Linked DNA regions of Homo sapiens. The gene in region 1 interacts genetically with each later gene. Each region holds a gene or a part of one and is shown on either strand. Other genes may lie near its edges.

Region 1 (2,976 bases):
CCTTCCACCTGGGGCATCTCCCCCACCTCCCGACGTGGTACTCTGCACTGTGCCCCCCCCAGGCCCCGCCTCCATGCCCCTGTCCCCCTGCCCCCTAACAAGGTGGAGCACACCAAGGCCCCACCTCCATGCCCCCATTTCTCCTGCCCCACGAGGTAGAGCACACCAAGGCCCCACCTCCATGCCCCCATTTCCCCTGCCCCCCAAGGTGGAGCACGCCAAGGCCCCGCCTCCATGCCCCCCATTCCCCCGTCCCCCCGGCAAGGTGGAGCACCCTGAGGCCCTGCCTCCATGCACCCTGTCCCTCAGTCCCCCCAAGGTGCAGCACCCCAAGGCCCCACCTCCATGCCCCCTGTCCCCGCCACCCCCCGAGGTGGAGCACCCCTAGCTGTAACTGGGAGGCTTACCAGCCTGTCTTCCCCCCAACCCTGCTAGACTGTGAGCCTCTTGGGGCAGGGACATGGCTACACAGGGCCAGCAGAGGTGACCCCAAAACTTGGCTGGTGGATTGAAAAAATACAGCAAACTTCACCCAACATGCATTGGATTTACTTGAGTTCCAAATGTGTTTGAGGAAAGGAGAGAATAACCATCCGGGACAGCTGTTGCCCTTTCTCCACACAGGAGCTGGGGGAGCCAGGTCTGCGGCCCCCTTAGCCATCTGTCGGTCTTGGGGGCAGGGCTGCCTGAGAAGGGGCTTTTGGGGTTTCCACATCTCCCCATCTTGTCCACTGACCTCCTCCAGCACCTGCCCCAGTCGCTCCTTGCGGGAACCTCCTGGGGCCCCAGGACGGAGACCACTCCCAGGCTCTCCACACCCTGGAGCCAGCCCTAGGCCCACCTTCCTCCCCGCTGGGGCCATGCCCTCCATGCACCCCGGCCCAGGGTGGGGCCAGCCCCCAACACAGACACTGCACCCAGGAACACATGAGCATCTGGTCCACGCCCTCCGGCGGGCCCTGGTCCAGGCCTCTCACATCCAGCCCCAGGTGCCCAGGTGGCACCCTCCCTCCCTGGGCTGATGGATGGTGACTTCCTCCACCCAAGCCACCACCTGCCCCCTTCTCTGCGCCTCGGAGCCGGAAATGTGGACACCTGGTTTGGGCAGCACAGGGACCAACCAGCCGGACACAGGCCCTGAGAAGCTGCCAAATGAATCCCAGCCCATCCTGCAGAGGACAGTGCTGGTGACCTGCCTCGCCTTCCAATGTCACAGTCCCAAGAACCGTCAACACGGCCACCCTGGCCAAGGCAGGGCTCCCACCTCGGTATCAGGACAGGACAGGGCAGGCTGGCCCCTGGGTCGGGGTGCAAGGACCCAGAGCGGCCACCAGAGGGCAGCGCAAGAGCACGCGGGAGCCCCATCCTGGGCACCAGCCCAGGATCCAGACAGCAGCCTCTGGGGCCCCCAGGCCACCAGCCCGCCCCGCCTGACGCTGTAGCCCACTCCACACACACGGCCACGGCTCCTGTTTTATTGCCTTCGGGTGTCCGGAGCACCTGACTGCCCCGGGGTCTAATAATTTAAGGTGCCGAGAACAGGTCAGGACAAGGGGTCGCAAAAGAGGGGCTGGGGGCCCAGTGGTTACAAAATATACCCCCACCCCACAACAAACAGGCTAGAGGAGACCAGCCTGGCTGGTGTGGGAGGGGGCGGGCAGAGGGCGCCCGACCCACCTCAGAGAGACAGAGCCACGGCCAGCGCCGCCAGAGGGAGTGGCGGAGACAGGAGAAAGGGCCCAGAGGCCACCCAGGGCCCGAGGGGCTCCTCGCTCCTCGGACACAAGTGCACGGAGGTGTCGGGGAGGAAAAGGCGATGTGGGGCCAGCCAAGGCCTGGAGCCCCTGCTGGGCTGGGCAGAGCAGGGCTGGGCAGGGCCTCCAGGTCCAGCCAAGGTCCTGACCTACATGACGACCAGGCCCAGCCAAGGTCCTGAGCTACATAACGCAGCACCGGGTCTTGTGCGTGTGTGGGTCTTTGAACCGCAGCCTCTGTTTGGGCCGGTATTTCTCCAGGTAGGTGAGCTGCTTGCTGTTGATGGCTCCGCGGCGCTTCCTGGGAAGAGGGGAACAGGAACAGAGATCATCCAAGGACCTGGCTCGGCCATCTCACCTGCCCCAGGGAGCTGGAATCTGAGAGTGCAGTGGGCTGGAGTAAGGCCTTGAGGCTGGCCAAGCCCCTCCTGTCCCAGGGCCTTGGCACGGCTGCTCCCAGAGTCACAGTCACCCTTTCCTGGCCCCCTGCAGCTCACCCCTGCTTGCCTTCCAAACTCACCAAAGCGCCACCTCCTCCAGGCTGACTCTGGGCTCCCTACGGCCCCCAGGCTTCCCTAGCTCGGTAGGACCCACCCCAAGGCCATGAGCAGACAACAAGGGTGGTGCCTGGGCACCTCCACCATCCAGGAAGGGGGGCCTGTGAGTAAGGGAGGGGCTGAGCCCAGAATTCCAGCCCAGCTGCGCGACCTTCCCTTACAACAGGGACCTGGGCTGCATGCTCACCCTGTCCCCACCATCCCCACCACCTGGTCCTTACAGCGGGGACCTGGGCTATGCGCTCACCCTGTCCCCGCCACCTGGTCCTTACAGCGGGGACGTGGGCTGTGCGCTTACCCTGTCCCCGCCACCGGGTCCTTACAGCGGGGACCTGGACTGTGTGCTCACCCTGTCCCCGCCACCGGGTCCTTACAGCGGGGACCCGGACTGTGTGCTCACCCTGTCCCCACCATCCCCACCACCTGGTCCTTACAGCGGGGACCTGGGCTATGCGCTCACCCTGTCCCCGCCACCTGGTCCTTACAGCGGGGACCCGGACTGTGTGCTCACCCTGTCCCCGCCACCTGGTCCTTACAGCGGAAACCTGGGCTGTACGCTCACCCTGTCCCCGCCACCTGGTCCTTACAGCGGGGACCCGGACTGTGCGCTCACCCTGTCCCCGCCACCTGGTCCTTACAGCGGGGACCCAGACTGTGCGCTCACC
Region 2 (7,042 bases), on another chromosome or scaffold:
CAGACCCACCCTGGAAAAGCTAGAACCACAGCTGGGATTACCATTGCTCTGGGACCATCTTCTGAGTCAGACTTGGGGAGCCTGTCCTCCCCACACTCCTCAGTTCCTGAAGACATCCGTTTTCTCCTCTTGCTTCTTCTCTCATGGCTGTTTACTGGGGCCAAAGGGGACATCTCCAAGGAGCTACGGGACACGGTATCCACACCCCTGATGGTGAGGGCCTGGAAAAGAGTGGAGGAACGGACGTTTCCATCATTGAGACTTTGTGCAGCCTCAGGCTCAGGCAGGCCAGGCAACTCTCAGTGACTTGGTTTTCCCTATCAGTAAGTGGACTTGCACACCTACCCCAAAATGAGGACATCATGGAGATAAACTCAGACAGACCCAGAATGTTTTGGGAAAGATCAAGATCCAGGAAGGAAGATAGGAGTGGCTAAAGTGGGCAGCCTCGGAAGACTGGAGTGTGTGGAACAGGTGGGAGGTGGGTGTAGATGAGCAGAGAAGTGGCAGAACCAGAAGGCAGAGGCTCTTCTAGAAGGTTTAGCTGGCCAAAAGTGTACTGGAATATGTGGCATGGGGTAGTGAGAAGAACAAGTGGATGCTTCTAATAGCTCTGGCTTCTAATAGCTCACTCTATAGCCAGCCTCCAGGCTCCACCATGTGGGGGACTAGGGATGGCTAGGGCAGCATTGTCAGTGCTTATTTTCTGAGACAGCTCTGTTCTCTGACATTGGACCTTCTTCACTACCCCACCAGAAGGCATCCCTTGACCAGAATAAACTATGTGCATGTATACATGCATCTCTTATCCAGCATGCACTATGCTCACAGGGACCATCTTTACCCAGGAGCTACCACCCAGCAGGCACCATTTTTACCCAGCTGGCGCCACCTTCACCTGGAGGACATGACGACCATAGGGAACAAGTTTACTCAGCACAAGCCACACTCATAGGACCCACCTTACCCAGCAGATGTCACTTTTACCTAGTAGGCTCCTCACTAACAGGCACGTCTTAACCCAGCAGGTTCCAAATTTTTACTCAGCGATACCACATTCACAGAAAATATCTTTACCCAGCAGGCACTGCACCATGCCCACAGGCACTGGCTTTACCCAGCATGCACCATGCCCACAGGCACCAGCTTTACCCAGCATGTACCACGCCCACAGGCACCAGCTTTAACTGGCATATACCCCACCTATAGGCACCTACAGTCAGGTGAGGGCTTAGAGGCTCCTCGGTGGCACTGCTCACCCACCTCGTGTTCTTTCTTGAGCATTTCCATGGCCTCCTGGAAGCGCTTTTCCTTCTCCTCGGTCTCAGCGATGGTGGCTTGGTTTTGCTCCTCATAGGCCATTGCGACCACGGCCAGGATCAGGTTCACCAGGTAGAAGGACCCCAGGAAGATGACAAGCATGAAGAAGATCATGTAGATCTTCCCTGCGGACCTGAGGGTCTGGGGGAGCAAGGGGGCAGAGGTCACCCTCACTGGGGCCCCTTCTGGGTTATGGCATTTCCAAGTCACCTAGTCTAGTTGTGCCAGGGGTTCAAATAGCCATAGCCTAGGGAGGAGGGTAGAGATGTCCCACCTATAGAGAGGGACATGTACTGACCTGCAGAGGAGAATGACCTGCACACAGCGGGACTGTGTCCCACCTGAGGAGGGAGGCAGAATGTTCCACCCAACTCAGGGCATGCTGTGCCCACAGAGGGAGAATATTCCATCCTACAGGGAGAAAGAGTGTCCCACTCACAGAGCAGAGAGCATCCTATACAAAGGGACTGGTACTTCATCACCAGCAAAAAGAAAGTTTCTTTGCTGCTGATCCCTTCTCCCTCAGAAGCAAGGGTCCTTGTCCCCTGTCCCCTCCAAAGCTCCCACCAGTGGGGAGGCTGCTGGGGCCACTTCTGGCTAGTCACTTGTGTAGCCTGGACCCTGAGCCCACACTTGCTGTCCCTTGTGGGCACACACACACCTGCTGATAGAGGCGCTCCCAGCAGTCCTGCGTCATCAGGCGGAAGAGTGCAAGAAAGGCCCAGGCAAAGGAATCGAAGCTGGTGTAGCCGTGGTCGGGGTTCTCGCCTGCCTTTAGGCACCGGTAGCCCTCCGGACATGTCCTGCAGCCACACACAGAGACTTTGTTCCATGCCGTCAGGGGTCTGCTGCCCTTGAGACCCTTGCTGGGCTGGACTTGTCTCCCTGGGCAACCCAGTTTATGCCCCACAGCTCAGTGAAGCTGAGCTTCACAAACCTAGTGCCACGCTGCTGGATCCTGCCTCCGTGACTTTGTTCGTGCTGTGCCTCCCACTGGGACACTATCTTCCTCTTTACTCTTCTTATATGTACTCTGCTAGGCCTAAATCAAGCTCCCTTCTGCCCATACGTCACACCATCCCCAGCTACTATCAAGTTGCCTCTCCTCACAGAGAGGAAGCACACAAGCCTGGCTCATGTCTCTTCCTCTGCCCATCTACCCCATGAGGAGTTGAGTACAGCATGGGCATGGGGGAGAGCAGGGTTGGGGAGAGCAGTGAGCCTCGGCTGAGCTGAACAGGATGAGCCCAGGGCAAAGGCAGGGCCATGGGGTTGAGAAATGATTCTGGAGGGGATGGGCTGGGGCTTGGCCATGTCAGGAGCTCATTTGCACAACTGTGCACACAGCCACTGGTTCACTGAGGCAGATTCACAGTTCACAGAGCTGGAGGTGGTAGCCTCTCTCCAAAGAGGAAATGCTGGTCTGGAGTCATGTGTGCATGTATGTGTGTATGACACACACACACACACACACACACACACACACACACGAGGGACTTAGCAAGTGGATGGATGCATCCAAGGGACCTCTGTGTCTTGCTAATGCCCCAAGACCCTCCAGACAATCTCTTTGGTGACAGGAAGGAGGCAACAAACTTGGTACTTCTCCTTTGAGGTGGCCCTCTGTGACCCCCTTCTCCAACACTCCATGGCACTGTCACAGTGATCCAGGCCCTGGTGTGCACAGGGCCCTGGAAGCTGCACATGGCTACTGGGCATCTCAAGGAAAGTCCAGGCTGCTGGAGAAACCACATTTGCTCCAAGGGACAGATCAGCAGCAACGGAGGGAAGACTGGAGCTGGAGGGAGCAGTTCTGGGGAGCTTCTGGAAGGGAATGGAGCTGGGGGTGGGCTGGTTGGGGGGCTGTAGAAGGCATCCCAGGCTATCCCTCAGTCCCAGCCCACCTTCAGGGCTCCGTTAGCTCTCCCTGCAGCTCTGTCCCTGACCTTTCTCCAGAAGCTGTCTCCTCTGTGCTGGGGGCAAGGTGGGGAAGCTGGGGAAGGGTCCTGGCAGGTAAGGGAGACAAAAGAAGGCCTCGCTGTCCCTGGGGTCAGGGCATAAATAGAAAATACAGTCAGTTGAGAAAACACCAGGAGACTCCCCTGGCAGGACAAGGAGACCCGGGGTGGTAGGTGCCACATACCCAGCGTCAGAGCTGTTCCCACACAGTAACACATCAGAGGTGCCGTTCTTGAGCAGGTAATTTTCTGTAAGAGAAACATCATGCTGGTGAGGGGCACTCTGGCCCAAAAGTTTCCGCCTTGCATCCAGGGCTCTGGGGAGGTGGAGACCTCACTAGCGGTCTTCCTTCTTCTCTGCCCCTTCCCTGCCCCTGCCCCTGCCCTCTGCCTGGCCAGGCTTCAGGCAACTCTGGCTGTGCCTCTGGCCTTCCTTCTGTTCCTCTGAAGACATCCTGCTGCCAGTGTCCCCATGCTCTCAGAAGACACGGGAAGCCCTGGGCAGGGCCTCAGCTCTCCCCACAGGAAGCTTCTGCACCCTACCCGAAACCACTCAGGGGGCCCACCAAGGCCAGGAGGCAAGGGTCTGGGCAGTTACGGCTTGGCTGCCGAGTCACTGTGGGGCCTTGGCCGGCTACTGCCCAGCTCTGTACTCACTTCCATCACATAAAATGCTGGAAGTGATGCCTGCAATAGTCACCATGCTAACGCTGTGGTCTGTCCGGATGGGGCTACACCAGACAGGACTGCCCGTCTTGTCCTCTCCTTTCTGTGGCAAGTCATCAGTCCCCAACACTCACCATTACCTGGCTTTGTCTTAGGCGACAGTTGTCAAAGCATGGTCCTCGAACCAGCATCATCAGCATCAAGTGGAAACTGCTTAGAAATGCAACTTCCTGACTGCCACCCAGACCTACTGACTCGGAAACTCTAGGGGTGGGGCCCAGAAGTCTGTTTTCCAGAGCCTTCTAGGTGACTTGGGTGTACATGGAAGTTTTAGAACTGCTGTTATGAGGCCACTGCTGAACTACTCATTGAGTGTCTATGTTTTGTTTTCCAAAGTGGACTGCTGGTGTATGTAAGAGGCCCTAACTTCAGAATGGCCCTCAGGGTCATTCTGGCCCAGGGTCCTGTGGCCTGGAATCTGGCCTTGCAGCAGCATGTACCTCCGAAACAGACCAATGGCTCTAGTCAAGAGTGGTGCTGGCCATCAGCCTGGAGAATGGAAGTGTGAGCCACGGGGCAGTGAAACAACAGAGGGGCTCACACAACTTGGCACAATCATTGGGCTTGTTCCAACCCTCTTGCAGGGTTCTGGGGTACACGTATATGGAACGAGCATCCTGGCAAGGAACACTGACGGCAACTGGGAAATCTCCATGCCAGCTAGGTGGGGCTTCACTCTGAAGCCTCATCAACTACGCTGGCTCCATGTCCACCCCTTTCCTAAGCTGACACTCTGTGGGCAGGCTGGTCACCTTGCCATTGCAACACTCTAGGGTCAGTCCCATCTCCAAATGCCGCAGCCAACTGGCCCTCTATCTAACTCCATACTTTCCACTCCTCAAGCATTGCCTCTCCGTCTAGCCTGGGAAGTCACAAGGCAGGCCCTAAGTCTGCTACCCGTCTGTCCTCTGTCTGGGTCTCTGGGGGATCAGGCAGGGCTTGAACAGCCCTGGAGGCCTGCCCTCTGGTGACGCGTGTGTGGGAGGTGACCCCGGTCTGCTGGTCTCACAAAGTCTTCCCCAGCTGCAGAGCAAGTTCGCACCTGGATCACTGAGGTAAAGGTCCAGGGATTCCCAGACCAAGCCGTCGGCCTCCACGGAGCCGTTGGTGCCGTTGAGCGCTGTGAAGTTGCGCACGCACTTGTGCCTTAGGTTGCCCATGAAGAGCTGCAGGCCGATGAGGGCAAAGACGCTGAGGCAGAAGACTGTGAGGACCATCACATCAGCCAGCTTCTTCACAGACTGGATCAGGGCCCCCACGATGGTCTTCAGCCCTGGGGAAGGCAAGAACAAGCACGGGGTCACCCAGGGGCACCGAGCTCTGTGCTCCACTGGTGGGGGGCTGGGCCTGAGTTGAGCTGGGGTGGGGCCAGTGTAGGCAACCAGAGGTGGGGACAGAATAAGGGAGGCTTCTCCTGGGCTTTGAGACCCAAGCCCCACTTTCCTCACAGCTGAGATTCTGTCCTGATTTCCCTGGGCAGGAGTCTAGGCTGGCTTTGTAGTTTCAGAGGGAGCCTGCTCCTCTTTGCTCTCCACCAGCCAAATATATGGCATGGGTGTGGAAAGTGCTGCTTTCTTGAGACAACACATACTCAGAGCATGACCCCCTTTGGCTAGTCTGAAGGTGTGCTAGGCCTACCCCTTTTAATGTAGTCCATGGAAAAGGAGATGGAGGCAATTGAGGGGCCTCAGCCTTGATCTTGAGATGGGGAGAAATAGAGCCATTCCTGCTGGAGGTCCTCCTGCCCCACTGCTGGGGCTGGCTCTATTTGATGTACAGGGAGTGTGGATTGTTTGGAGGAAACTAGGGGCCCAGGGTCTGGTCGGGTAGGGGCTGAGGGCTGTGGTCAGGTGTGTGCTGGGGGCTGTGGGTGACGGTCTGGCGGGGTCATGGCGGGTGATGTCTAAGGGGCCTGCGCTGGCTCAGGCCCACCTTTAGGGAAGGTTCAGGAACAGGACTGACCTGCATTGCATCTTCTCACTTGCCCTGTCCCTCTAGAACCTCCCCACACCCCCATCCATCCCATTTCCCATAGCTGAGAGGCTGTGTTCTGTTAGTTGCACAGCCTAGCTCCCTGCAGAAGCCAGCACCACATAGCAGAATGACAGAAAAGCATGTGTAGACACCAGTCTGGCCCTTAGCGACTGTCCTAGGACAAGTGCAAGCAGAGCATGGGGAATGAGGAGGCTCCTCTGCCAGCGGCAGGGCCCTGCCCCTCATGTCCCTGTCCCAAGCGGCCAGATCTCAGATTAAGCTCCATCCATCCACTGTCCAGCCGGTTAATGTGTTAGGAGCGCCTGTGGCTTCTGTGCCTGCTGCTGCTGGGCCTGTGACCCACAGGCAGGGAGGCCATGATGAGCAAACACAAGATGGGGAGAGGATGACCTCCCCATGGTGCCACTGACATTGCTGCCCACCCAGGGCTCAGAGGCACTCAGCCTTCCTTGTGGAAATCGTTCCTGGCAGATGTTGGCAACTGCCTGGGCAGTGGGTGGACCTCACAGGTCTGGGTCCAGAGTAGTGGCGGTGGTGAGATTCACAAGCTCTTCATGGTCCAGAGCTCCTCATCTGTAACAGAGCTTCCTGTACCCTTTGGTGGGTTTACTGGGCTGGAGACCTGCATGTCTCGAAGGGAACAAAGTGAAGACTGATGGACAGCAGCTCCAATACCCAAACTGGTCTCTGCCTCAATTGTTAGGCTAAAGTCTCTTTGGCCTGAAGTATCCCATTCAAGGCCAGCAAAGCACCCCCTGACCTGGTCTGTGGACATAGTGGCCAAGGGTAACTCACCCCTTTGAACATTTCTCATACTGATGATAGATTTCACTTCTGGCAAGAATGGTTGCAACGAAACTGCAGGATTCTTTCTGAAAAGACCCAGGAAGGGATTGGCCCCAGGAGATCAACTGGGAAATCCTCCTGCCACTGAATTAACAGGCTGGGTGGAAGAGCCCTTGGAAATCACCAATTCTGATTTCACTCTCATTTTATGGAAAAGCGACTGAGTCTAGAGAGGACTAGGGCTATTTCAGACTCAG
Region 3 (5,310 bases), on another chromosome or scaffold:
GGGTAGATGATGGTTAGATGGGTAGATGGATGGATGGATAGATGGATGGGTAGGTGGATGGATGGATAGAGAGATATATGATGGTTAATGGATGAATGAGTAGATGATGACTAGATGGGTAGATGGATGGATGGATAGATGGATGGTTGGGTGGATGGATGGATGGATGGATGGGTAGCTGGTTGTGTGGTTTACACTTTAGCTCTGGAACCTACAGACCAGCCCTCCTTACCTCTACCCCTTTGTTTCTTTCTTCCAGGTTGTGGGCATTTTTGCAGGATTTGGGCTGCTGCTCTTGGTGGCCTCACCTTTCCTACTCCTGGCCACTCCCTTTGTACTTTGCTGCAAGTGCAAGTGCAGTAAAGGTGACGACGACCCGTTACCCACCTAGAGGAAGCGCGATGCTGGAACACATCCCTGCCTCCGGGAAGTGTGGCTCTCCCCCAACCCTCCCCACCGTCCCCCCTTCACTAAACATCTTTCTTGCCTTATGTGCCCCATTGAGCTTCACAGTGTCAGGCTGGACGCCGTGATTTCAGGGACCTATGTCACAATGTTCGCTGAGGCCCCAGGTGTGGTGGGGAGGGGAGGCAGGTGTGGGTAGCGCACATCCCCACAGATCAATCTCTGCAGATGACAGGGAGGTGCTGTGAGAAGTGCACCAGGCAGCTTTCTCTCTGTGGTAGACTAGGCATGTCTGGGGATGGCCTAAGAGACTTTCTGCTCCTTGGCTTCTAGATGGCACCATGTTGTCAGAGAAGTCTTTTAAGGACTGCCACTCTCTTCAGACAGAATCTGATTATTCCAGCTTGAGAGAAGCACTCTGTTTATGACAACTGTTTTTATTACTAATGGCATTTAGTAAAATCCTTTTTAGAAGGTATTTTTTTTCCAACTGAGTAGTGAAAATCAACAAGGTGCATATAAACCATCCTATGCCTTTCTTGAAATGTGCATTTTAAGAAGTTATAGTTAAACGACTTTTCAGGAGATTTAGAAAGCCTTATGCACTCTTTGTGTTTTTCTTGAAACTTGCTGTAGTAACTTTTTGAACGCTGTAAGCTGTGTACTGTTATAAGTGTGCTTCCTATATTGTTGCATTTCCTTGATAATATTGACGTGTTTAAAGGAACATCTCATCTCCATTAGATTTGCCTTTTGTTGTTTTCTCTCTTTGGTGATTCAGCTCAGCTCATGGGCCTCATCCCTTCTCTCCCAGGTAGCAGAAAACGCTTTTTATTGTATTCAATCCCACTGCTTTGCTCGGCAATGGTTCTCCTCCGAATTGCTGCCGTCTGGCCTCTGGCCTCAGTCTTCAGATAGACAGTAAGAAGAAAGCAGCCTCATTGATCCGCAGATGTAGGGGCCTCTTGGCAGAGGCTGGAGGACTCTGGGGGCTAGGGAAGAGCCTGCCAGATTTTCACATTTTTAAAATGTTCTAGTCATTTTGAGAAATCATATATCTTACACAGTTCCAAGTCCTGTTGCTAACCGTTTTGCTCTTGTTGGGGAAAAGAACCTCCCATTTCACTTCGTTTTAACGTGGGGATTTTACCACTTGATCTTTTACAGGGCTGTCTGTGACCATTTCCATGGCAGCAGGATGCAGGGATTAATAAGGACACATACACATTATTCCACCAATTGACTTTGAAAAGTGGAGAAAGTGTATTCTTTAAAGAGAATTTACTTCTAAAAGCCACAGGTGCTTTTACAAAGCAAACTGCATTGAATTTAAAACTTCTAAAAATAACAGGCAAATATTGTAGCTATATTACAGTGGGATTTTAAAAATCTTGTTAAACATTCTATAAAGAAGTAAAACAAAATCCTTTTATCTCAGTTATTTGCCCATCACAAGCACATTTTTAAAATGTTGCTTTGTGTGTGTTTGACTTCTGCATTTGAGTATCAGTCTCAGGTCCTAGTTTACTTTCCCTGGTTGGAAATTTATTTCTTATTTCCTAACATTGAATTCGTTAGAAAAAACAGCGTCACCTCACTCTTCACCTGTCATGTTGATTTTCCTTATGAACCCGAAGCCATTTAGAAAATCCCTGTGTGTCAAAATTACATTCAAAAAGCTCTCCTTGTAATTGCAAGTTTAGTAACTCAGTAAGAACATGCCTGCGACTCCCTTTCTGGATGGAACCTGGGCTGTGGCTCTCTGTCGTTTGTGGTGCTGTGATGGTGTCTACTGTTAGAATAGCTTTTCTGGAGGTGGGTGGCAACTCCACGCGGGAGTCATTGGCTGGGCTTGAGCCCTCAGCCTGTGATATGTGGATGCAGCTGTCCAGCCACTGCCCTTTAACATGCCCAGCACACATGGGAGGCCTGTGGCCCTGTGTCCAGTGGCCCACAGGACACGCCTCCACCATATGCTCATCCTTCCTGCCTGAAATTGCTGCTGCCCATCGCATGAGCCCACACAGTAGCACCCCCGTCCTTAGGATGAGAGTCAGAGCCTTTGGAAAGGCTGCATCCCCAGGGCTAGAGCTCAGATGACCTTATTTCTAGAGGGACAGGCTGTTCTGTTGGAAGAGTCTCTGGCCCAGTCATGCACATCTGTAGCCCCAGCCATCCTTGTGCCTTCACCTCTGATGTGTTTCACAAGCACGTAGTTCAACCCAGATAGGGACCACAGAGATTCTGGGGCCAGCCAGGGGCAGTCAAATTGGCACCTACTGGCTCTGACTTTTTGTATGAAGCATGCCTCAGTTTCCTCATTTTGATCTAGATATAAAATTAAAATTGTCCATTTCCTATATAAATACCAGCAAGATCACTCTGAGATACATAAACTCGCATTTCCTTCTGTTTTAGTAAGGAGTGCCAGACTTATCTTTGATGGGAATACAGTATGAACCCTGCTTGATGTAAAATGGAAATAGCACACAGGCAGATGGCCCTGGGTTTGGACTTTGATCTTGCCATCATTCCCCAGTAAAACCTGGGGAGTTCTGCGTTGAGTGGACGGACTTATTCCTGTGAAGCGGCATAATTTGTCTCCATTGAAAAATGGCATTCACTCTTACAGATGGTGTTCACTGCAAGCCCCAGAAGCATATGGCATGTGTTCACTAAGAGGCCTTTAATCCTGGGGAGTAAGGGGCGAAGGCCCTTAGACAACCATGGCTGCTGTACTGCCGCCCAGGGTGGGTGGCCAGTGAGGACTGGCCTTAGCCCAGTGGACCTGTGGCTTCTCTGAGGCCCTTGAGTAACTGACCACATTTGGAGGTTTTGCTGGAAATGCCTGACCTCTCAGTCTGGCTCTGCTGTGTAGTCCATAGCCCAGCCAGATGAGCTTGCAGCCTCATAGGAGGTCAGCACCTTGCAAAGATGCAGTCACCATAGATGTCCACGTAGCAGAGACTGACTTAGGATCTGAGATAAAGCATCGGATTGCAGGAATAACTGTCCAAATTAGTTCTTCCTCCTCAACTCATAGGAGTAGCTGTGGACAGAGGAACCAACATCTGCCACCTCTGGCATTTTCTTTCTTTTTTTTTCTTTTTGAGACGGAGTTTCGCTTTTGTCCCCCAAGCTGGAGTACAATGACAGGATCTCGGCTCACTGCAAGCTCTGCCTCCCGGGTTCAAGCGATTCTCCTGCCTCAGCCTCCCAAGTAGCTGGGATTACAGGCACCCACCACCTCACCCAGCTAATTTTTGTATTTTCAGTAGAGACGGGGTTTCACCATGTTGGCCAGGCTACTCTCAAACTCCTGACCTCAGGTGATCTGCCCACCTCGGCTTCCCAAAGTGCTGGAATTACAGGCCTGAGCCACCCCACCCGGCCTATTTTCTTAAAGGGGAACAAATGATCTTGACAACATATTATTCCATAAAACCAGTTTAGGGCACAGGCCAGTTCCTGATTAGAACACAGGACCTGTGGGAGGGACTATCAGAGATGCAAAAATTACTTCAAGATGAGTTTATTGTTTTCATTTGTATTGCAAAAGTTAGAAGTCATTTTACAAATTAAAAAAACATTTTTTTCTTGGTAGTCTTTAAAAATTAGGGGATTGAAAGGATCCAGGATGGGCTTTGTGTGTGTGTCTCAGATTCTCATTTATTAGTGAGCACACCTGTGTATATATATAAATCACAAGGAGATCATCAAGGGAAAACATTTTGCATGTGTAAAGCTTCATGAAGTTCTCTTTAAAAAATACCAAAGCTTGTTTATTTCTGATAATTAACCTAAGCCCTTATGAAAATAAACAAAATGAAGGGATTATGACAGGTATTACCAAAAACACCAAAAGGAACAAAGGGGCCTGCGTTAAAACCTAATTGCTAATGCTTCACAACTAGGAGAGCATGCCGTCTTGATGTTTAAAAAACCCAGGGTCTCCACCCTTCCTTTGATTTGTGCAATTCTGTCTTCCACAGTTCCGGAGCCTTCAGTGAGGGGTAGCTACATGCCCCATGCCTGCCCTTTCTTTCCTTCTTTGCTCACTTTACTATGGGTGTATTTTAATCTTGTATAAAAATATGCATGAATGAGTCATGCACATGTATACGTTATGTATTTGACAAGTGGTGGTGAAACAAAATCAAAACAGATTTGATTTGTGTTTTTGAAATGTCAGTACATTTTGTGCCACTAACACTGTGATGTATAAAAGAGCTGTTTGAATGCCTTTTAATGTTGTGTTTTGTACTCTGGAATCATATGGAAAAAGTTTGATTTGTAATTTCAATACATATTTTAAATGTATTGTGTCTTACGTAGTTTGTCCCCCCCTTTAGCAGGGATTCCTTTTTAAAGCTATTTTGGCTGGAATACAGGTGACTTTTGTAAACCCCGCGTGGCTCCGTCTTTTGTAGATGCTTATCTGACTACTGGCCTGAAGATGGAAAATATTCTATCTTCAGTCTTCAATATTTAATCTATTGAAGATTGAAAATATTCAATGTGGGAACTGGGGGTGGAGGGAGAAAGGGTGAGGCAGGGGAGGGATCTTATATCACTGGGAAAACAGCTCTTGTATCCTGAGATTTTCTGTTTTAGGAATGTTCTCAACTCCTAGATGCCAAAATTACTTGGTTTGTTGGGTGTATCAACCCGTCCAGCCATTCCTGGCTCCCTCTTGTGGTGCCCAACCGGTACTGCAGCATCAGGAAGCATCTCATCCCCACTCAGGGCGCTCTGCTTCCATCCGCAAAGACAAGTTCCTTACAGACCTGTCACATTTTATGAGTTGCAGCATGAAAATCAGGAGGCATCCTTTATCTGCTGGGGGTGGGGAGAAAGTGGAATAAATATGGATCCTTCTCATTTCGTAGGAGAGATAATAATGAG

What was found. Genes that interact genetically often act in the same process or in processes that back each other up.
Region 2: changes in PTP4A3 (region 1) and SCN5A together harm fitness less than expected from each alone (positive genetic interaction), as found in Homo sapiens cells (one study listed by BioGRID).
Region 3: changes in PTP4A3 (region 1) and RNF144A together harm fitness less than expected from each alone (positive genetic interaction), as found in Homo sapiens cells (one study listed by BioGRID).

Annotation. Positions count from the first base shown.
Region 1 is NC_000008.11:141,430,006-141,432,981, reverse strand, and holds the end of PTP4A3 (protein tyrosine phosphatase type IVA 3), read right to left. Parts: intron 2,056-2,976; coding exon 1,938-2,055; 3' UTR 528-1,937; downstream 1-527. UniProt on the Homo sapiens protein: Protein tyrosine phosphatase which stimulates progression from G1 into S phase during mitosis. Enhances cell proliferation, cell motility and invasive activity, and promotes cancer metastasis.
Region 2 is NC_000003.12:38,604,688-38,611,729, forward strand, and holds part of SCN5A (sodium channel protein type 5 subunit alpha), read right to left. Parts: intron 5,278-7,042; coding exon 5,047-5,277; intron 3,528-5,046; coding exon 3,464-3,527; intron 2,124-3,463; coding exon 1,982-2,123; intron 1,462-1,981; coding exon 1,264-1,461; intron 222-1,263; coding exon 42-221; intron 1-41. UniProt on the Homo sapiens protein: Pore-forming subunit of Nav1.5, a voltage-gated sodium (Nav) channel that directly mediates the depolarizing phase of action potentials in excitable membranes.
Region 3 is NC_000002.12:7,039,370-7,044,679, forward strand, and holds the end of RNF144A (E3 ubiquitin-protein ligase RNF144A), read left to right. Parts: intron 1-259; coding exon 260-391; 3' UTR 392-4,810; downstream 4,811-5,310. UniProt on the Homo sapiens protein: E3 ubiquitin-protein ligase which accepts ubiquitin from E2 ubiquitin-conjugating enzymes UBE2L3 and UBE2L6 in the form of a thioester and then directly transfers the ubiquitin to targeted substrates.